Regions from separate parts of the Homo sapiens genome. Here regions 1, 2, 3, 4, 6 and 7 are each reported to be linked to region 5. The links are microRNA targets in miRTarBase. Many come from high-throughput screens and were not tested one by one. Region 5 holds a microRNA gene; each other region holds the end of a gene's coding sequence.
The links. The annotated mature microRNA hsa-miR-5681a reads AGAAAGGGUGGCAAUACCUCUU and lies in region 5 at 1,875-1,896, opposite strand. An mRNA with a match to its seed (bases 2 to 7 or 8) in the 3' UTR can be bound and repressed. Matches are read on the target gene's strand: a 7mer-m8 pairs with bases 2 to 8, a 7mer-A1 pairs with bases 2 to 7 and ends in A, and an 8mer does both.

Region 1 (3,000 bases), not on the chromosome of region 5:
TGTATGTTTATTATTCTCTTTGTCCATCGCTCCATCTTACTCTAGGCACCTCCCCTGGATTCATACTCCTGCTCTTCAAGAAAAATTCCTAACAATTCCCGGTAAAGGAGGTGTCATCGGAAATGACAGCTTTTTTTTCTTTTGTGAGACAGGGTCTTGCCCTGTCACCCAGGCTGGAGTACGGTGGTATAATCATAGCTCACTTCAGCTCAACCTCTTGGGCTCAAGTGATACTCTCACTTCAGGAACTCAAGTAGCTGGGACCACAGGTGCGTGCCACCACACCCAGCTCATTGTTTTGTATTTTTTTGTAGAGATGGGGTCTCACTATATTGCCCAGTCTTGTCTCTAACTCCTGGGCTCGAGCAATCCTCCCACCTCAGCCTCCCAAAGCGCTGGGATTATAGGCGTGAGCCACCGCACCCGGCCTCAATTTTTGTTTATACATTTTTTTAAGTATCACCTAATTCTTTATTTTTGTAATTTTGAGATAATTTATATGCCAACAAATTCGCCCTTTTAAGTGAAGGATTCAGCGACTTTCAATTCCACAGCATTCTAATCACCCAAAAAGAAACCCCACGCCCATTCGCAGTCACTCCCAATCCTGCCTCACCCCAGTCCTTGGCAACCACGAACCGGTCTCTCTGCAGTTGTCTTTTCTGGACATTTCGTATCAATGGAATCAAACAGTAAGTGGTCCTCTGCACGTGGCTTCACTTGGCACAGCTCCTCTGAGTGCTGGCCGGGATGCAGCACGCATCCATGTTCTGTTCCTTCACGTGGCTGGATGACGTCCCATTCTTTGGACAGTCAGCTTTGTTTCTCCCTTCATCTGCTGATGGAAACCCAGGTTGCGTCTACCCTGTGGCTGGTATGAGCCGTGCTGCTGGGCACAGCCAGGCACAAGTGCATGTGTGAGCAGCTGTCTTCAGAGCTCCGGGGTGGATCCCCACAAGTGGAACTGCTGGGTCAATTGGTGGCATGTCACTAGCATCCTGAACAACAGGTTCACTGAAGACCCAGCCCCACACCGAGAGCTCCCTCCTCTGCACCAGTGGCTCCCCCTCCACCCAGCGGCCAGTGGGTGCCCACGCCTGCTGCCTTGCTTTCATCCCATCGCAGGCATCTGTCCTTTCTCTCTGGCTGCTGTCAAAATTATCTCTGCCTGTGATACTTGAGTGTGTCGAGGCAGAGACTGATGTTCGTTTCTCCTTGGGGTTCTATTCTACTTCCTGAATCCTTGAAATGCATCTTCCTTCTGTTCTCTCCATTCTCTCCTGGGATTCCAGTCATACACGTGTGGATTTGACTTTCTACACCCTGCCTCCCAGCTGGTCCTTTCTGTCTCCTGGAGAGTGGCCAAGCTCCGGTGACCTCCTGGGAGGCCTCGGCCCGGCTCCTTGTGGTGGCCATCTTCAGAGGCGGCCCCACCACGATGGAGACGCAGAACCCATGAGCGCCATCCCCCTTTCGAGAGCAGCTCATCCCAGACCCTCACCCCCAAGGGGACCCAGCCCAGGATCCTGACGGGGTGGAGCAGGCTGGAGCTACGACCGTCTGGATGGCAACGCGGAACTCCTCCCAGAGAAAGCCCAGAGAGGCCCCGCTCTAAGTCAGCGAACACGGCTTCACGTAGGCCCTTCCCAAGCCCCTAACGCAACTGCCACAACGGTGTAGGTGAAGCAGTCCAGGCCCGGCTGGTCACCAGGGATTCAACTGCCTCTGGCACTTCTATTTGCAGATATTATCTCTGCCTTAAAAAAATCTGTAAATAGTAGGGCCTGCCCCTGTGGCTGCAACTTTCTCTAAGGACCCCAGGACTGTGCCTTCTGGAGCTGGCAGAACTCTGTGGTTTATGAGAACAAGAAGTTCCACAGCTGTGTCCTAAACCAGGTTTCCCCTCGGCAGTGCCTACAACACGGAAACAGAACTGACTGTCCCGGGGTGCCCACACCTACTGTCTGCACAGTGGAGAGGGCAGCAGCGTGGCCTGAAGGCCAGCGAGCCCAACCCCCCAGGGACAGGCACTCTCTGGCGAACCGTCTCGCAGGAGGAAAAGCGTAAGGCTGCTGTGGTCATAAATACATTTTATTTCATTAGAAATGCATAATTACAGTGTTTAAGAGCATTTCCCCTAGAAAAGTAGGTCAGCAATACCCCATCGGAACCGAGAGCTGGCTTTGCAAACACCTGCCTCATGACACTGGACAGAGCACACAGCAAAGGGCTCCCGTCTCATGACACTGGACAGAGCACACAGCAAAGGGCTCCCGTCTCATGACACTGGACAGAGCACACAGCAAAGGGCTCCCGTCTCATGACACTGGACAGAGCACACAGCAAAGGGCTCCTGCTACTCCCCTGGGATTTTTTTTTTCAAATTTTCTTTTTTGTTATAAACACCATAGCAAATTAAAAAAAGCTGTTTAAACAGAAAAATATCATAGTTCTTGATTTCCCGCGCATATGCGACGCTCTCCGCACCGTGCCTCCCCTCGTGCTCCGACACCAACAGCAGGACTCAAACGAAAGGGGTCTCCGGCTGGGGGCGGCGGCGGCTGCTCTTTCAGTTGATAGGATGCTGTTCCCCGCGGAGGCAGCGGCCTTCAGACGCACTTCAGCAGAACACGTGCAGCCGCTGCCTGTGCCGAGGCCGTGAGAGCAGGGCGCGTGGGGGCCGGGCCGTAGGCGGAGCCGGCGAGGGGCTCCTGGTGCCATGGGCACCGCTCACTGAATCTGGATGGCCCCGTGCTCGAGCTGCATCTCCGGCTGTAGCGTGGGCTGCAGGGCTTCGGCCGTCTGCAAAAGGGAGAAAGGAGGGACTTTCTAGAAAAATACCCAGCACTGCATGGCCAGGGGGTGTCATGAACAGCCAGTGACTTTAAGGCAGAATGAGAAACACGCACACAGGAGCGCGAAGGAGCCCTGACGGCCCCAAGGCTCACCCGACTTGGTACACAACGCCTGGCTCCCAGCGGAACGACGCGCCCACGACCC
Region 2 (3,095 bases), not on the chromosome of region 5:
GCCATCATCATGCCACTGCACTTCAGCCTGGGTGACAGAGTGAGATTCTGTCTCAAAAAAACCCCACAAAACCCTAGAACATACAGCACTGCCTGCGTCTCCATTTTCTCATCAGTAAATAAGAAAAACACAGCCTGGGCCACATAGCAAGACCTGGTCTCTACAAAAAATTTTAAAAATGAGCCAGGCATGGTGGTACACGCCTGTAGTCCTAGCTCCTTAGGAGGCTGTGGCAGGAGAACTGCTTGAGCCTAGGAGATGGAGGCTGATGTGAGCTGTGATTGAGTTTGCTGCGAGGTGGAATGAGATGAAGGGGTATGGAAAGTGTTACACCCAGTGCCTAGCTCATGACAGATGCCCAGTAAATGGTGGGTCCCCTCCCCATCTAAGGAAAAACTGACAAGAATTTTTGACTCTTCTCTGCTCTCCACAGGCGGCTGAGTGACAGCCCATCAATGAAAAAGGAGAGCGAGCTGCCTCGCAGGGTGAACTCTGCCTCCTCCTCCAACCCCCCTGCCGAAGTGGACCCTGACACCATCCTGAAGGCACTCTTCAAGTCCTCAGGGGCCTCTGTGACCACGCAGCCCACAGAATTCAAAATCAAGCTTTGAGCAGGGGAGTGAGGCAGCCAGAAGTGGGGGCAGAGGAGGGTGGCTCTGTTTCCCCAAGGCAAAGCTTATGACCAATGGGCCATCGGACTGGAGACCCCTGATTGTGGGAAGGGTTGCCAGGGATAAAGAGCTTCCTCACTGGATGGGACCCGCCTTTCTGTGTTGTGTTCTGCCCTGTGCTCTTCTCTCTACGTTAACGTTTCCTGTAGTATGTTTCTTCATCTCATCGCCAAGGTAGGCTTGTGTTTTTCAGTGTGTGCCTCCCCGAGCCTCAGCCCCAAGCTGATTTCTTATCTGGAAATGGTACACTGAATTCTCTGGGTGGCTTTCTTGTGGCCCCATGGGATGCAGCGTGGGGGCTGTCTGAAGGACCCTGCTTTTTCCAGGGGCCGAGGGGCTGCCTTTCCTTTGTGTGTATTAAGCTTTTCAAACAATGGAGGGGATGGAGAGCCCTGGTGTCCTGACGGGAGCCAGGTCGGCCTGAGAGCTGTGCCGCTCCTCTGTCTTGTCAGTGGAGGTGCCTGGGTGGGGAGCAGGTCTCAGGCCTCTTGTCCTCTCCCCAGTGGCTCCAGGCCTCACTAGTGGCAAGGGCAGGATGAGGCTGCACCGCTGGGAAGAGTCTATCTAAGCTCTTGGCTTGGAGTCCCGTGTCGTCTCCACCCAGAGGAAGTTCTCCAGAGTTCACCTTTCCCTTTTCCTTGAGTTGTGCTGAATGCCCCACCCCAGCTCTCTTTCCCTTCTGGGTGTCTTTGCTGGGAGGGGGCTGTGTTGTGAGCCCTCCCGGTTCTCACCTCGCCTGGCACTTAACCACACCCTGGTTTTGTGTAGCCGCCAGCTCTCTTCTGGTTGGGCCTTTGAAAGGCTCAGCCTCCCATTGTGCAGTGCTTGGGTTTGGAGCTTATTTGAATGGAAGAGGTCAGTTTGTTCCTGGCTCTCCATTTCTGGCCTCAGTTGTCTACAGGACAGTGGTCAGGGATGCCTGGAGGCATATATCCAGCTGCCACCAAGGGGCACTGTTTGTTCCCACTTATGTGAGTGACCCCATCCATCCATGACCAGAGGATTATTTTCCTGCCTTGGCAGAGGAGGAGGAGTCAAGGGAGCAGGGCAGCTCTACCAGGCAAGGTGTTTCCCCAGCATAGGCGCAGACAGTTGGGACGAAACTTCAGAGCCCAGGCAGTCCCTGAATGACCAGGCCAGTGTTGTCACTGAGTGGTCCCCTGCTGGTTGGGAGTGAAGAGAATCCAGGCTGGCAGAGCTGGAGCCAGTTGGGGAGCACGGTTCTGGGAGCTCTGCAAAATCAGTAGCAAGTGCTGGAAAAGGCACATGCCGAAGATACTCAAGAGCTCCCAAGATTTGCTTGAGGCTAGCCCAGTGAAAAAAACCAGAGACTCATGTTTCCAGGGGTCAGTCTGTCAGGCAGGAAGGACCCAGGATTTGAACCCAGCTTCAGTGTGCAGGCTCTGAGGCTGCCCAGGACGGGAAAGTCCAAGGAAGGGGCCTGGTGGTGCTCCACTTGCAGTTCTTTAAAGAATGCTGCTTTTTATTCTCCTAACCCTTTCAAGTGGGTGCAGACTTCTCGTTAGCAGCTGGAAGACATTCCTCCCACACTTTTCCCTTCCTGGCCCAAGAGAGCATCCAGAAGGCAGTAGGACCTGGTTTTTCAGGTACTGGGAGCCGGGGGCTCACTGCTTGCACTGTGCTTAGGGTAGGGATGGTAAATATCCTCCCTGCATGGCTTTATCCTCCCTCTCATCCCAAAGCAGGTATCTTCTGGTTGTCACAGAGTTTCATTGAGTCCAGCTGCAGCCACGTGGCCATCTGGAGCTGGTGCTATAGGTGACCATCTGGTACATTGAGGGGACCTGTTTGCCTCCTCCACTCTATAAGCAGTCATCTTGGGAGACCGGGAGGAGAAGGTGGTGGGCTAGTCCTGTGTCCTCCTCCACTTCCCATGCCTCTATGTTACCCATCTGTGTCTCCTGTGCAGAAGGAGAGGAAGGGGCATTAAGAGATGAAGGGTGATTATGTATTACTTATCCATTTCTGAATAAACATTTGTTATTCCTACCTTTGAGTTATCTTTTTTTTTTTTTTTTTTTTTTTTTTGAGACAAAGTCTCACTCTGTTGCCAAGGCTGGAGTGCAGTGGCACTATCTCAGCTCACTGCAACCTCCGCAGCCAGACTCAAGTAATCCTCCCACCTCAGCCTCCCAATTAGCTGGGACTGCAGGCGTGCATCACCATGTCTGGCTAATTTTTGTAGAGATGAGGTTTCACCATGTTGCACAAGCTGGTCTTGAAATCCTGACCTCAGGTGGTCTGCCTGCCTCGGCCTCCCAAAGTTGGAATTAACAGGCGTGAGCCACCACGCCCAGCCAAGGGTTTTAATCTTGCAGGGATTTCAACATTTGGGGTGGAACTTAATTATTTAAAAAATAGAGACAGATTCTTGCTATGATACCCAGGATGGTCTTGAACTCC
Region 3 (3,095 bases), not on the chromosome of region 5:
CCTAAAAGAAGTGGGGACAGGTCCCACTCCTGTGCCTCGCCCCTGCCCTGCCAAATGTTTTTTGAACATTTAAAAATGTAGTTAAGTTCATCCTATACACCAAAGAGTGCCACAGCACACACCTCCTCCAAGCCAGCCTTTGGGAGCCTTCGTCATCCATCCTGGAGGCCCTTCCTAGGGTGGGGTTCGGGTCTAGGGCATGCTGCCTTCCCTCAGGACCCAGCACCCACCCCACCCACGCCTGGGGCCCTCAGGGCTGGGGCTCGTTTTCTGATCCCCCCCAGTGTGTAACCTCCTGGCTGCTGGCACAGGCTTGGCCCTGCAGACCCACCTTTACCCCAAGGCCAGTCCCGCAGCTTCCCAGGGCAGAGGCTCCCAACAGAAAGCAAGGAAGCGGCTGTTTAGCCTGGACACTAACTGGACGAGTGCCTCCAAGTACTGCAGACGGTCTCTGCACACAGGCCCCCATCTCTTTCCAGCCCTGGCCAGGGAGATGGGTCAGTTTTCCCAGCAACCCAGGGGGCACTTAGGAGAAGGGGTGAAACAAGAAAACCAAACTTTCATACGATTGGTTTAATTTTTTTTTTCAGCAGGAGAAAAAAGAATAAAGTTACAAGATTCTTTTAATATTTTCACAATGTTAAAACTAAAACTGAGCTCTAGGCTATGTGTGTAAGTAAATCTAGAACACAAAAGGGTTAAATAAGATTTTCTCTTTTAAAGATACAAGAATTTAAGCTTTCCTTACATTTAACAAACTTCACAGAACAGATACTGCAGGGGAACAAGCCCCACCCCCCACCCCCCCCAGCTCTAAGTCAGGAAGCGAACATGGGCTTCGCTCCCCCAGGCCAGCTCCCCTGGGCTCCTTCCCATGGCTGCCTCCACGCAGCAGGCAGAGGAGGGGGCGGGGGGCCCTGGGGAGGGCCGGGAAGGGCTCGCACAGCCTCTTCGGGACCAGAGCTTGGCGGAAGCCTATGGGGGGCTGCCTCACTGAGGATGGCCCGTATGGTGGCCAAGGGCTGTGGCTTGACAGCAGTGGTAAACGCTGGGCAGACCTGGCCCCTCTGCCCTGGGTTGCCCTAGAGCAAGACACCGGTCTGGGTCCTGAAGCAAGAATTAAGGCTGGGGATTTTGCAGCGGGTTCCACTCTGGTGGGTGGAGGGTGGGAAGAGCATGACTTCCTATTTCAGTACGTCGGATCAAAAAACATTTGCAGTTGCAGGTGTTCAGCTGTTAATTTGCAGACAGAGTTGAACCATTTGTTGTTTTATAAAAAGGAAAGTTGCTGGGTTAAACTATTCCAGTAGCCTATGTGTGGGCAGATCCACGCTGCCTCCGCAGGGGCCTCCTGCCCTCACCCACCTGGATCTGATGCGGCACTAGGACCACTGGGACTGCTCACCCTGCCTGGGCTTTCAAGGGAATCCTGATCCTGTCCACCCAGCCCCAGCCCCACCTGACTGGTAGTGATTTCCTAACATGGGGCAACCAGGCCCACCCCCACCCTTCCCCACCTGGCGTGCGCAGTTGCAGCTGCTGAAATCCTCTGTGAACATGAGGGGGCACAGGTGGAGAAATGTACCCTCAGGCCCTCACCTACCAGAGCAAATATCACTCTCGGAGCTGGGCCACAGCCACAAACCGCTGTTCTAGACAGATCCAAACCCACTGTCCCTGGGACGTATGCTGCCTTCCCTTACTAAACTTGCTATATGGTAGATGTGGACTGGGTGTCCTTGGACTATGGGGCTGCATAGAAACGAGAATGGAGGCCACGACATCATCCTCTTGGCCCCTGGAGGCACGGGCGGCTCCAGCTGGAAGGGGCAGAGCCCGTGGGCGGCAGCTTCCCCAGCTGCTGCTCCCAGCACTTCTACTGATTCTTGTTGGCTATGAAATGTCTTTTTAAAAAACTCCCAATATAGAAATCTGGCTGCAGAGGCCAGTGTGCAGACCCAGCCACCGCGCTGTGCTGCCATTCGCCACATCTGGTCCGTGCCAGATCCCTGCACTGGCGAATGGCAGACCAGAGCCGGCGGAGGCGGGGCACTCTGGCTGCTTCTCGTGACCTTGGATCCTGTGTAGAAAAGGCGGGTCTCGTTCGTGGACTAGTCTTGAGTGGAGCTAATTTTCAAAGTGAGGTTACTGTTTCTCTTCTTGTGTGATGAGTTTTTTCATAGCAAGTCAGGTAAAAAAATTTCCGTAAGAATCTGTCCCCCACCCCCCATTTCCAGCTCTGTGGGAGAGTGAGGCCACCACCCAGCCCAGCCACGTGGCCAATCTCAGCAGCCTCCCGTGGCCAAGGCACACGTGGCCATCAGGTATCCTGGCTACTGGGACTAAGGATAAGTGAAGAGGTGAAAGGCCGATCATTAAACAGAGTTTCTGGCAAAGCCATGTGCGTCGTGGGAACTTTAACACCAGCTTCTACTCCTCTATTAACTCAGAGTCTCCGTCTGGAACACTTTCCACTTAAGGCTTTTTATAAGTTTGACTCCAGCAGTGACAGGTATGTGTTGTTTTAAATCCACTAGCCATGCTCAAAAAAAAAATATTCTTCATGTTTTAATTTTATACAATGGCTAGCAGGCACCTTAGTAACCAGCCAGAAATCAATTTCAACCACCATCAACCCCTAAACTACAGTACCAGGATGGCTGGCTAAAGAAAGGAAACGGACTGGCTGCAGTCTGACGCGTGCCCAGTACAAGGTGTCTGGCTGACTTTGTCCTAAATAAGGCTAACATTAGTGAACTAAGAACAGCGTCACGTGGTGGCCATGCCTGGCCTTCAGGAGCACCCCTCCCCGATGCGCTGGCAGGAGCGCCCCACTTTCCGGTCCAGCTTCACCATTTTCATGATGGCTTCCTCCCGGCCACGGCCCATGTGGTCGAATGTGCAGTCGTGCTGCTCGGGGAGGCGATGTAACATACAGAACACATAACCTGCAGCAGCGGGAGAAGCAGAGGAAAGAGTGTGTTAGGGTGGCCTCCAAGTGCGCAGAGCCTCACAATTGCCTTTGTCCAGAGGATGGAGGGGCATCCCAGTGAGTGGACAACACTCACTGCAGGGGTTCCTGATGCAGCAGAGAG
Region 4 (3,095 bases), not on the chromosome of region 5:
TGTGGGCTTTGCTCCCATGGGAACATGGGAAGTTGCCTGAGAGGCAGGTCAGTGGTGCTACTCATGGGGAGGTGAGGGATAGTTTAGATGTCTTGTGGTGGTCCCTCTCCACTCTTGCCTGTCCTGGACAGTGTACGACCTTCTAAGTGGCCACATTGTGAAGAAGCTGACCAACCACAAGGCCTGTGTGCGTGACGTCAGTTGGCACCCCTTTGAAGAGAAGATTGTCAGCAGTTCGGTGAGGTTGCAAGGGTTGAGGGTGCTGGCACATGTCTGGGGCTTGGACTTGGGTGGGGGCAGCACATCCTGACTGCTTGCCACCCTCTGCCCTGCAGTGGGACGGGAACCTGCGTCTGTGGCAGTACCGCCAGGCTGAGTACTTCCAGGATGACATGCCAGAATCTGAGGAATGTGCCAGCGCCCCTGCCCCAGTGCCCCAATCCTCTACACCCTTTTCCTCACCCCAGTAGATCCAACCTCCAGCCCCATATAGGGTGAACCTCTTGATAAGCTCTCTGCCTCCTCCTCCCTTTCTCCCTTGTGGGGAATGTTTGGAGGAATCACTGGCATTTGATGGGGAATAACATAAGCCTGGGCTCTGAGCCTCAGCTGAGCCCTGGAAGATTCTCCCCATGGGGCAGAGTGGTCTCCTTACGTGCTCACACCCAGTCAGCTTGGGTCCCTATCTCTGGCCAGAGTTTGGCAGGACTGCCATTATCTGGGGTGTGGCCTCTGCCAGCAAGAGAAGTGTCCTGGGTGTTTTTAATCATGTTTGAATGTTAGGGGTTGGATCCTAGAGTAGATGCCTGAGGCCACATCTGAACAGACCTGTCAGCCAGGCCTGCCAGGTCTTCACGTTGAGGATTCAACTGGCCAATCACAGGACAGGTGTCCTGGCCTTTCTTCCTGAGGTCTCTAGGGGAGGGGCATGGGTAAGGGTGTTTCCTCAGCACCCTCCTGGGGTGGGGATTATGTCTGCTGTCATGTCTGGGTCTTTAGGGTAGGACAGGCTGTGGTATGAGAGGCAGGAGTCTCCACAAGGCTTCATGTGGCCCCTTATAGGGCAGGCCCTGCCCTCTGGGAAGGTCCCTTCATGCTGGAGGCACACAGCTTTAAGGAAGTAGGTTGAAGTAGGACTCCTTCGTCCTCTCACTGGCTTTGGCTCCCTCAATAAACTGTGTGGGAACCTGGCTCAGTGTCTGTCTCTCTCTCTCACTCTCTGTTTTTCCTATCTGAGGTCTTTCATCTCCTCACTTCAGGAAAACACAGTTCAGCAAAGTCTTCAGATGCGATCCTGTGTAGGAGAAAATACCCTTCTGGTGCCCCATGAAAAAGGGAAATACCAAAACCATTTGTTCACTGAGCCTTGCAATAGGTGCTCCCTTACCAATTTCAGAAGCTTCCCTGCAAGTAGATATCGAGAGAGCACACTTTCCATTAGAGCCTGGTAATACCCATATCACCTCTGCTCTGAGGCTGGGCCTGCAGCTGTGTAGTCTTTGGAAGAGGTAGCCCCTGAACGCAGAGCCTAAGAGAAGCAAGTCGGCCCTGACGCCAGGCCCCAGTGGGCGCCTCACACTCAGAACCTCATACCCCAGAGCAAACCGATGGTCAGGGAGAGGGCTAGAGCTCACACCCAGCTCGGAATAGATCTTCCCTGATGACATTTCATGCCCTCTAAGGCAGTTTTTAAATGAAGGTACACACATCCAGGGGTGTTCACAGGCTTTCACAGCAAGGGTACCTATTTCATGGCAAAATAGGCAGTTTTAAAAGAATAAACAAGCTAGGTGTGGTGGCTCATGCCTGTAATCCTAGCACTTTGGGAAGCCAAAGCTGATGGATCGCTTGAGCCCAGGAGTTTGAGACCAGCCTGGGCAACATGGCAAAACCCCATCTCTACAAAAAATACAAAAAGTAGGCCGGGCACGGTGGTTCACACCTGTAATCCCGGCATTTTGGGAGGCCGAGATAGGTGGATCACCTGAAGTCAGGTGTTTGAGACCAGCCTGGCCAACATGGTGGAACCCAATCTCTACTAAAAATACAAAAAAACTAGCCGGATATGGTGGCGGGTGCCTGTAATCTCAGCTACTTGAGAGGCTGAGGCAGGAGAATCGCTTGAACTTGGGAGCAGAGGTGAGCTGAGTGCAGTGAGCCAAGACCATGCCATTACACTCAAGCTTGGGCAACGAGAGCAAAACTCTGTCTCAAAAAAAAAATTAGCCAGATGTGGTGACGCATGCCTGTAGTCCTAGCTACTCAGGAGGCTGAGGTGGGAGGATCACCTAAGGCCAGGAGGTCAAGGCTGCGGTGAGCCGTGATTGTGCCAATGTACTCCAGCCTAGGTGACAGAGTGAGACCCTGTCTCAAAAATAAATAATAAATAAATAAATGTTCAGATCCTTGGCTTCTGTGTTCTCATTCCTCAAATTGATCTACCTAGTGTGAAACTCCCGTGCCAGATCTCCTTTCCCATCCACGCTTTTCATTCCCCGTCTGCCAAGTGATAAAGTTACCTAAGGTGCTACCCATCTCACCCAGAACCTGTGTTACTTCCAGGGCACCAAATTAAGAGAGAAATTCAAATTGTTAGTATCCTTATAGCTTCATTAGATCAAAGCCCCACAGACCGACCATTCTCAGTAAGAGATGCATTTACAATATAATTTTATGTTATCGAAGTAATGTAAAATGTTTGTTGTACAGGCATACCTAGGAGATATTGTGAGTTCATTTCCAGACCACTGTAATAAAGTGAATATTGCATAAGGCGAGTCAATTTTGTTGGTTTCCCAGTGCATATAAAAGTTATGTTGTTTTTAGGCTGGGCACAGTGGCTCATGCCCGTAATCTCAGCACTTTGGGAGGCCGAGGCAGTGGATCACCTGAGGTCAGGAGTTCAAGACCAGCCTAGCCAACATGGTGAAACCTCGTCTCTACTAAAAATACAAAAATTAGCCAGGTGTGGTGGCAGGCGCCTGTAGTCCCAGCTACTCAGGAGGCTGAGGCAGGAGTATCGCTTGAACCTGGGAGGCGGAGGTTGCAGTGAGCTGAGATCGCACCACTGCACTCCAGCCTGAGCCACAGGGTGA
Region 5 (3,095 bases):
GAGGTGGCAGCCAGGATTGTAAAAGTTGCCTAAAGGTCAGCCAGAGGCAGCCATTGCTGACTTGGAGTGGCTGTAGCATTCTGAAAGAATCCTGTACTTCAAACACCCTTTCTTACCTGCTTGCTGAGTGGTTTCCATGCAACGTATTTGAAAAGATTCAAGAAATTTATGCACAAAAAAGGAAAAAGAATCCACTGCATCTTTTCCTCAGTTTTAGTTCCAGGTCTTCCTCTAACAAGATGTGTGATGTTGGGCAAATCATGTAACTTCCCTGACCCTCAGTTCTCATAAAAATTGTAGTTTTGACTAAATGATTGTAACTCTCCTAGTTCTAGTGTCTAGTTGTCTCTCTCTTATTTAAATTGGAAGTTGGTATAGAGAATTAGAAGAAAACTTCAAAGTACTATAATAAATAAAAGATATAGGAATCCCCAGAACTCACAATAAATTCTAATACCATTATCATAAAGATGATACCAAAAGTATTGTTTCTTATAATGTGTATATTCTCTCCTTTTATCATAATTACTAAAAATATTGTATTATAGATCCTTAGCCCATTACTTCCAGCAATACACTGTATATAATTTCCCAGATAATGTGCAAAGTGTTTTTTCACCCTTTTTCCAGAAGCATGGCGATAAATGTAATTAATACAAAATGTTTTAAAACAAATAACTTTTAAAAAAAATTACTTTAGGCCAGGTGCAATGGCTCACGCCTGTAATCCCAGCACTTTGGGAGGCCAAGGTGGGCAGATCACGAGGTCAGGAGATGGAGACCATCCTGGCTAACATGGTGAACCCCATCTCTATTAAAAATACAAAATATTAGCCAGGCGTGGTGGTGCACACCTGTAGTCCCAGCTACTTGGGAGTCTGAGGCAGGAGAATTGCTTAAACCCGGGAGGCAGCGGTTGCAGTGAGCCAAGATTGCACCACTGCACTCCAGCCTGGGTGACAGAGCAAGAGTCCACGTCAAAAAAAAAAAAAATTACTTTTACTACAAGCAAACCCTGAAGCATCCTGGACAGTCTTGACCTGTGAGATACCCTCTTACTTCCACAGTCATGGAAACTATGCATTTTCCAGATGGCATATAAGACCCGATACCTATGTTTTTCTAGAATCCCTTTGCAGTGGACTTTTCTTCTTCCTAAGGCCCATGGTGCGTGCATGGTCTCTAATGAACAGATGGCACTTGGTCCCTGGATGAGCTCTTGTACCTGCAAATCTTGAGAGCTTGGAGACAAGCAAGAAAATCATTTCAGACCCTCTCCTCCACTGTCAGCACCACTTCCCCACCCCTTTCACCTTGATCTGCTTGGTTTTGTGTTTTTGGGAAAACCCACTAGTTATTGGTCACTACCTGCTCACAAGTCAATGTAATGCTCCCCGTCTTGTTTCCATCTTGGTTTTCCTTTGTTTAAGAGGATGAAGCCACTTAGGACCCCTATATGAATGAGACTTGTTTGGTTGAAAGTTGACCCAAAGTAATAAGTGGTTTATTGTAAAGAGGAAAGAGGTCTATAAATAGAAAACCCTGGGGGACTGAGGCTGGCCTCAGGACCAGGGAATAGCAGAACACAAGTGTGCAAGTCAGAGAACTAGCCAAGAGTTTATAATCAAGCTTCTAAACAGGAAGTCTCAATTCAACTTCAAAAATTACTTTATAAAGAATTCAAGTGCCATGAAGGCATGTTTTAACTTGGCTTCTTTGGCTCAGAATAGTGTATATTGGTATCTCTAGTGGCTATCCCCTTCCCATTGTTAAAAACAACATGTGAAAAATCCTACAAAATAGGTAAAACACATTTTAAAGTGCCATTGACTGCTGAGGCAACTCACTTAATATCAACAAGTCTCAGTTTTTGGAAGAGGTATTGCCACCCTTTCTAGTCTAATAGGGACTAGAAAGGGTGGCAATACTCTTCAAAAACTTCACAAGGAAGTTGTAAGGAATATATGAGATCATCTATATAAAGCCCTTTGTGAACAATAAATCACGATAAACATAGACTTGTTGCATCTATCATATCACTTAGGGTTTTTTTTTTTTCTCTCACAGATTAAGGTAGTTCAAAAAGGAAGCCAGAATTTTCACTTTCTCTTTATTTCTGCTCCCAAAGAACCGTCAATTGCTTAAGGGATTGCTCCCAAAGAGCCTGGAGGTAGAGGACAGGAGGAGGCAGTTGTTTATTTAGTTTTTTGAAATGTTTCCAAGGAGAATGAAAACTAAAATTTGTGTGTGTCCTTTTTCATTTGCCTTCTGTCTAAATTGGAGTGTGGACAAAGGGCAGCCGCTTTGCTAGATGTGGACATTTGCTGAGCAGTATACTGTGCTCCAGTTGCAGGTGGATAGTGCCTAGCACTCCTCATTAGCTCATGGTTCTGCATCACATTCTTCAAAGAGCTGCTAAAGCACCCACACACCACCTGCCTGAGGGTGCAGCCAGGGCTGAGTGACATAGTGTGTGCCTCTCCTGCAGGTGCATTAATAAGGAGCCACAGGGGTTATAAGAGGCAGAGGGCTGAGAAGATGTTTCCTACAAATGGATCCGAAACACAGCCTGTTTGTATATGTGCAATTCATTGGCTTCTTGGAAACAATCCTTTGCCCAAAGTAACAGTTTATAATCGTGAAAATGTGACTAAACTTTAAAAGTACATGAGGAAAAGGACTATTTCTATTTTGCCGAGTCCAAGTTGGATTTGACTTTGGCCTTTCCATATCCCAAATGGTATCCACTGTTTTCAGCATTTTGGCCCTGAGAACAGCTGGTGAAGAAATTGATTGAGCTCAGAACAATCCTTCAGATGTCTAGAATAATCAACCACCTTCCATAATTTCAGTCTTACTAACTACGTGATATGGAGTGCACAGAAATCTGATTGACAACTCAATTAGTCCAAATTCCAGTTTGCTGCCATCCACACATCCACAATGTGCACACAAAGGTCAGCTAGTTTATAGAAGAGAAGAAGAAATGGGAGATTTATAATCGAAGGATTAAAGTCGATCACTAATGATCACTATTTAAACAAGGACCTGCTGTTACTTGTTAAACAAGGAAAGATTTGGAGGCTTCCATTTGT
Region 6 (3,095 bases), not on the chromosome of region 5:
TTCAACAAGCTGTATACTTATAGTGCACTTTTCTGTATCTCTTCTGCTTTAAAATAAGTCAGGTGCACAGCACCATGTGCTCACTTGTATTTCCATATTCTTTTACTGGAAGGGGTGAGGTTACAGACTCCTCTTGTGTTGTACTCTGGGAATTCACTGTGCAGACATGCATCAATAGTTTTGTGTTCCTTTAAGAAGTAACTCTGGGAATAGCGCTTAGATGCTCAGAAAGGCCAAGGATAGTGATCACACCAGCCAAGGGTCACCTTTAGCAAGAGCAGGGCTTAGTGAGTGTGTGATGAATTGACTTACACTCGAGTTAGTTATAAATGTAGAGATTCTGAAACACCAACTTCGCATATCTGTAAGATTGCTTTTCCCTCATTTTACATGTAATGAGGGGCTGACAGTTCCTTGCTAACCTTATAGAGAAACACAAGTCAAAACCACATCTGCATAAGCATGAGTTATAATGCATTCAACATTTATGTACCCTTAGGAACAAGAGTCGATTTTTTTTTCCCAGTTATTTCCATCAAAAAACAGCCATGTGTCACATGACAGGGACATGTTCTGAGAAATGAGCTGTAAGGCAATTTTGTTGTCATGTCATGTATGTCACAGAGTATACTCAACAAACCTAGATGGCATAGCCTACTACACACCTAGGCTATATGGTATAGCCCATTGCTCCTAGGCTACAAACCTGTACACAGCATGTTACTGTACTGAATACTGTAGGCAACTGTAACACAATAGTAAGTATGCGTGTATCTAAACATGCCTAAACATAGGACAGTCACAGTAAAAATAACGGCTTGATAGTCTTATGGGACCACTGTACTATGTGGTCTGTTATTGAAACATCCTAATGCAGTGCTGCATGTATCCCACTAAAAATAGTACAAAAAGATGAGACTTTGTCTTCCACATCAGACCTGTCTCCCAAGGCAACCACTATTATGACTTTCTTATGTAGTCTTACATACATATTTTATACATGCACAAAAGCATATATATGAATGTGTATTACTCCCGCCCTGCTTCTTTCCCTAAATAATTGCAAGCCCCATGTATTTACTTGTTTTTTACTGGAGATGTTTCACATCCACAAACGTGCATAGAACGCATCTACCATTCCACTGACTATACAAATTCTGACTTACTTTACCAGGTATTTCTAGTAAAACTCTAAAACCTTAACATTTTTTACAAACTATGTGGCATCCTTGAATACACATTCTTTGACGTGCTTTTTCAATTACGGTAGAAACTGCCTTAACGCATAGCCTCACCGACAGCATGTTAAAACGCAAACCTTTTGACCTTTGCATTGCTATTTGGCTAACACTGGTACTTCGCTGTTATTTTAATCGGCAACCTTCTATTTAGCTCCACTGATTTTTCCATGTCTACCTGAATTAAGTACTAAACTGTTTCGAATACCATAGCCTTAATATATATTTTAATGTGCGGTAGGTTTAGTCTTTGTTCTGTTTCTCTGCAAAGAGATCATTAAAAAAAAATGTACAGGCAATATTTTAGACTGCCTTAATGCCAGACTTCGCAGCACAATATAGCTATTGCTCCTATTACACAAACATATTACAATGGAATTTACGGCTTCCCCTCAAGAATATGGAACATAATTATTCATGTCACAATTTTAAATAGGAAAATTAGTGATTAAATTTTTTTTTAGAAAGAATCATGTTCATACAGTAGGCCAGGTATAATCACTTCTCAAAGAAACGGCTAAGATTTTACATTTGTAATATATCGCTTTCTGTGTAAATACCCCAGAAGGAAATAGTAACTGTATTTGGTTAGTGACTCTCCTGGATTCAAGTCCATCAAGGACACATGAAAGTGGCCATATCTGGGATTAGGGTCTTTGCAGCTGTCATCAAGTTGAGATCATACTGGATGAGGGTAGGTCCTAGTCCAATGACCGATGTCCTTGTAGGAGGGAAACTGGACACAGACACAGGAAAATGCCATGTGAGGCAGGAACTGGAGTGACGCCACTACAAGACAAGGGACACCATGGCTGGCTGGCTGCCACCAGAAGCCAGAAAGGGGCAGGGTGGGATTCTTCTCCAGACCCTGAGGGCATTGCCCTGCTGAAGCCTGAGTTTGGATTCTGGCCTCCAAAACTATGAGGATAATTCCAGGTGTCTGAAGCTGCGGCACACGTGGCAAGTTGTTACGGCAGCCCTAGCTGAGGAACGCAATCACCACCCCCGATTTTGTGTCACTTAGAACTGCCATAAATCTCCAGTGGTATATAGCTATAATGAGTGACTTGTCACTTGATGTCTCTTTTTCAGTCACTAGGTTGCTTCCAATAAGGCAAAAAGTAAGAACTTGTCTAGAAAACCCAGCCGGGCACAGTGGCTCATGCCTGTAATCCCAGCACTTCGGGAGGGCGGACAGGCGGATCACTTGAGGTCAGGAGTTTGAGACCAGCCTGGCAACATGGTGAAACCCCCGTCTCTACTAAAAATACAAAAATTAGCTGGGCGTGGTGGCGGGCACCTGTAATTCCAGCTACTCGGGAGACTGAGGCAGGAGAATTGCTTGAACCCAGGAGGTGGAGGTTGCAGTGAGTCGAGTCACGCCACTGCACTCCGGCCTGAGCGACAGAATGAGATTCTGTCTCAAAAAAAAAAAAAAAAAAGAAAACCCTTTTATGGTGATGATTTTATACTATTACCTCATTGAGACATAATTTATATTAAGGAAAAACAATACCTGGAAAATAAAATGTCAATGTTTTACAAAGTGTTCATAGTTTTATTACTTATCACCTCTATGTATTTTAACAACTTCAAAAGTGCAGTTGGATTATATGGGAAAAGATTTTTCTTTTGCAAACGGCAGATGGCATCTTGTAGTTCCTGGAAGCATTTTACTATTCTGTAAAATATTCCCACTTCAGAGACGACATCATTTGGGGCTACTTCACAATCAAAGGAGAAGGCAGTATCAAATTCTTTCAGAACCAGAGGCCTTGATGGAGGCTCAAGGCTAAATTCTTTTTTATCCCTGCTTGTCCCAGCTGCATCCTGAATCTCCTTAGTTGCTTGCTGGTG
Region 7 (3,095 bases), not on the chromosome of region 5:
CTTATTATTGATCCTTCTATCAGGGAAGGTTCTGCTTTGCCTCCTTCCTCCCTGGGGATGTTTTGGAGAAAATGCTTCCCTTGCAAAGGCCCACACACATCCTTGCCCAGGAAACCTTGTCCCCTCCCCTCTCCCAAAGGGGGTCTTGGTTGCTGTCCATGGTGCTGGCATCCAGACCAGCCTTGGGATGTAGGAACAAAAGCTGGACTGCGGTTCAAGTAATTTCAAAGTGTGGAAGTATATAACTTCCAATTTTTGAGGGAGTAGAGTGGATAGGGAACTGAGACTGAACCCTCCGTCTGCTCAGTAGGAAACTGTTTCCCCAGAGAGAGAACCCTCTATATCCCCCATCTTGGGAGACAGAAAGGCCAGACTTTACTGATTTGCCATTCTCAGAAGAGCTGGTGGGGACCAAATGGGGGATTGCAAATCAGAGTGACTACTAATATCTATACCAGCAGATAGGGCTCAGGTAGATAGGACACATGTGGAGCTTCCTGTGCCAAGCCTGAGCTGTCCTCTGTGATGGCTCTGCAGGGAAGGTTAGACATACCAAAGAAAATAGACATACTCACACACAAACACACTGTATCCATTTACACTCTGGGTCCTAAAATGAGGCCAAGTGGGACACTTTCCCCTCTCCTTCAGCACTAATGGAAGTCTTGGTATGGGAGTTGGGGCCAGCAATCAGTATGGTCTCCTCTTCTTCCTTTTTCCAACTTAAAAAGATCATTGTCCAGGAAAGGGTCATGGGAACTGCTGCCCTCTTCAAGTGGGCATTCCTACTTGCCCAGTGGAAAATAGGGAGTACGGATGGGCAGAATTCTCATCACTGATTCCAGGGTAAAGGGTCTGACAAGCTGGGCTTTATTCTCCCTCAAAGATCAAATCTGCTGAAAATTTGGTCATTTAGGTTCAAATTGAGTTCAGTGATAGAGGAATAGGGGTGGAGACTGAGTATACAGTAGGGAAGGAGTTGAGAAGGGCAGAAAATGCACAGAAACCTTGATCTTTGTACGAGGCTTTGGGTCTGCCCTGCCCCTCTGTAGATCTTGCATAATTAGATGCCCCTGCAAAAGGCCTGGTGGCTACTGGAGTTTCTGCGGTCAGGGAGCCATGTCTAGGCCAGGAGGCCAAGGTGTGGAGGAGGAAGAAGTGTGAAGTGAAATCTCCATCTACACCCAGCTAATTGGAATAGGGTGAGCGGTAGGGGAAGGGGGGCAAGTCCTGACATGGGAAGGGTAATCTGGGATGCAGAAGGAACTGTGCAGTGTGCTGAGAGATTTATTTGGATGGAAGATGAGTTAATCTGTATACATCACAAGAGGAGAGCTGTGCCCAGCCTCTGGGGGGCCAGAGAATGCTGACTTAGGGAAACAGTCTCCCTCTGCCCACCGCCCTTATCCTGCCTCAGTGCCCCAGGGCTTCTGGCCACCCCCACACTCAGCTTTCATTCTGTCTGTCTGATTCCACTTCTCTGCTTGTATCCCTTCCTCTGAAGGAAATTATCTTGGAACAACTTTTCCAGAGAGGGCAAAGTGACCAATCTAGGACTTCCTTCAATCCTGGCAGTCCAAAAGCACTTTCCTTACCAGAGTCAGCAACCTCTGCCCATGTCTGCAAATCCCTAGCTCCGGGCCCATTTTACAGCTTAGCCCCTGCCGTTACTTTTCACCCCCCACCCCCTTAATCTCTTACAGGAAGCCAGACTAGACTTGGATGTTCCCACTACAGACAGAAACATGTCTGGGTTTGTGTTACAAACTACTCTTCCAGGCGTCCAGACCTCCCATTGTTATGGGGGTCACCCCCAGGACCTGAGAAACCAAGGTGGGAGATGGGAGGGTTAGAGTCTTGCCTCCAGGTCTTGTAGGAAGTGGGAATATGAGAGAAATAAGTCAAAATCAAGAATGGAATATTTGATTTATTCTAAAATTTGTGAATATTTAAAAATTTTCAATATAAAAAGCCAGAGGCCTGGGCAGGGACAGGCCCAAAGATGTCTCTGCCTGAGAACTAAGTGATGGGGCAAACCCACTTAATAGTGGCCAGAGAGCAAAGGAGAGTTATAAGAAACCGTAAACCAGGCTAGGGCAGATTCACCTTCCTAGGGGCAAGACAAAGAAGGAAGGGGGTAGACAGAGCCTACTAAGTAAGCTGCTTATCCCTTCTGCCACATGGTTCAGATTCAATCTAAGAATGTGTATGGTGACACCTAGTCAGAGACAGGCCCTGGCAGGGGACATAAAAAACAAATAAGGCTTCACCCTTCCTCTCAAAGAGCTTACATGCAAAGACGAAGGACCAACCAGGTACAGACCAGATGCACAGTTACTGAGCTTATGCTTTGATAAATGCTTAGCCAGCAGCATCAATGAACACTATGAAAGCCCAAAAAGAGAGGCAGTTGAATCTTTCCTCAGGCCATCCAGCATTATTAGTTAAAATCTGATTTCATCCTTGGGGGATGCATACATGATCAGAAGGGCCAAGCAAGCAGAGAGACCATGGTTTTCTCACCTGGCTTCCTGAGTCAGGCCAAGTGCATACTTCACACATTGGTCAGGGCCGCCTCACACTTCACTATGGTGGTTCTATCCAGTTTGGTCAGATAGGCATTAGGGGAAGATGTATACCTTGGTCTTGTGCCTACAAAAAATCTTATCCCTATGATGAATGAAAGGGTGATGATGACAGTCTCTTTCCATGGGACTATCTGTCCAAAAACTGTAGGTTGATGCTCCTTTCAGGTACCAGGACAGTCCGGGTCTTGGGTCTAACTGGGGCCGCACCTGGCTCAGGCTGCACCTCAAAATGTGTTAGGATCTGGAAAGGGAAGAAGGTGAGCATTACTATGAAAGATATCTATAATGGGGGGATTCATTGGTAATCCAATTGGTAAAGGGCATGCATTATTAGTGTTAGAATGGTCAATGATTGGGTGGCACCTGTGGCCAGTAGGGGACTTCTTGGTTAATAAGGGTGAGGGATTATGGTAGGGAAAAAATAGTTTGAATACCCTCACTTACACTCCAGGCCTATAATGGGCTTATCATATTTCAGAAGATTCATTCTACCAGGTCTTATATGAT

Region 1: the mRNA of BANP is a reported target of hsa-miR-5681a. Seed matches in the 3' UTR shown: 7mer-m8 at 2,531-2,537.
Region 2: miRTarBase lists POLDIP3 as a target of hsa-miR-5681a. Seed matches in the 3' UTR shown: 8mer at 2,167-2,174.
Region 3: the mRNA of ZFAND3 is a reported target of hsa-miR-5681a. Seed matches in the 3' UTR shown: 7mer-A1 at 2,362-2,368.
Region 4: the mRNA of DCAF11 is a reported target of hsa-miR-5681a. Seed matches in the 3' UTR shown: 7mer-m8 at 528-534.
Region 6: miRTarBase lists LINS1 as a target of hsa-miR-5681a. Seed matches in the 3' UTR shown: 7mer-m8 at 2,075-2,081.
Region 7: the mRNA of CYP27B1 is a reported target of hsa-miR-5681a. Seed matches in the 3' UTR shown: 8mer at 2,681-2,688.

The regions. Positions count from the first base shown.
Region 1 is chr16:88,076,392-88,079,391 of GRCh38, reverse strand. It overlaps BANP (BTG3 associated nuclear protein), which reads right to left. Exons shown (of 14, transcript NM_001386991.1): 14 at 2,076-2,802. The coding sequence ends at 2,731. Among named protein-coding and RNA genes, the nearest start is that of LINC02182, 120 kb to the left of the region's middle.
Region 2 is chr22:42,583,307-42,586,401 of GRCh38, reverse strand. POLDIP3 (DNA polymerase delta interacting protein 3) reads left to right here. Exons shown (of 9, transcript NM_032311.5): 9 at 434-2,681. The coding sequence ends at 611. Among named protein-coding and RNA genes, the nearest start is that of POLDIP3, 30 kb to the left of the region's middle.
Region 3 is chr6:38,152,088-38,155,182 of GRCh38, reverse strand. It overlaps ZFAND3 (zinc finger AN1-type containing 3), which reads right to left. Exons shown (of 6, transcript NM_021943.3): 6 at 559-2,948. The coding sequence ends at 2,794. Among named protein-coding and RNA genes, the nearest start is that of BTBD9-AS1, 330 kb to the left of the region's middle. RefSeq lists an enhancer at 1,526-2,146.
Region 4 is chr14:24,122,840-24,125,934 of GRCh38, forward strand. DCAF11 (DDB1 and CUL4 associated factor 11) reads left to right here. Exons shown (of 15, transcript NM_025230.5): 14 at 132-238; 15 at 336-2,403. The coding sequence ends at 470. Among named protein-coding and RNA genes, the nearest start is that of FITM1, 6.3 kb to the right of the region's middle.
Region 5 is chr8:74,547,388-74,550,482 of GRCh38, reverse strand. It overlaps MIR5681A (microRNA 5681a), which reads right to left and starts at 1,940; the gene lies at 1,866-1,940. It overlaps MIR5681B (microRNA 5681b), which reads left to right and starts at 1,874; the gene lies at 1,874-1,933.
Region 6 is chr15:100,566,461-100,569,555 of GRCh38, forward strand. It overlaps LINS1 (lines homolog 1), which reads right to left. Exons shown (of 7, transcript NM_001040616.3): 7 at 464-3,095. The coding sequence ends at 2,778. Among named protein-coding and RNA genes, the nearest start is that of LINS1, 34 kb to the right of the region's middle.
Region 7 is chr12:57,760,427-57,763,521 of GRCh38, forward strand. CYP27B1 (cytochrome P450 family 27 subfamily B member 1) reads right to left here. Exons shown (of 9, transcript NM_000785.4): 9 at 1,908-2,829. The coding sequence ends at 2,716. Among named protein-coding and RNA genes, the nearest start is that of CYP27B1, 5.1 kb to the right of the region's middle.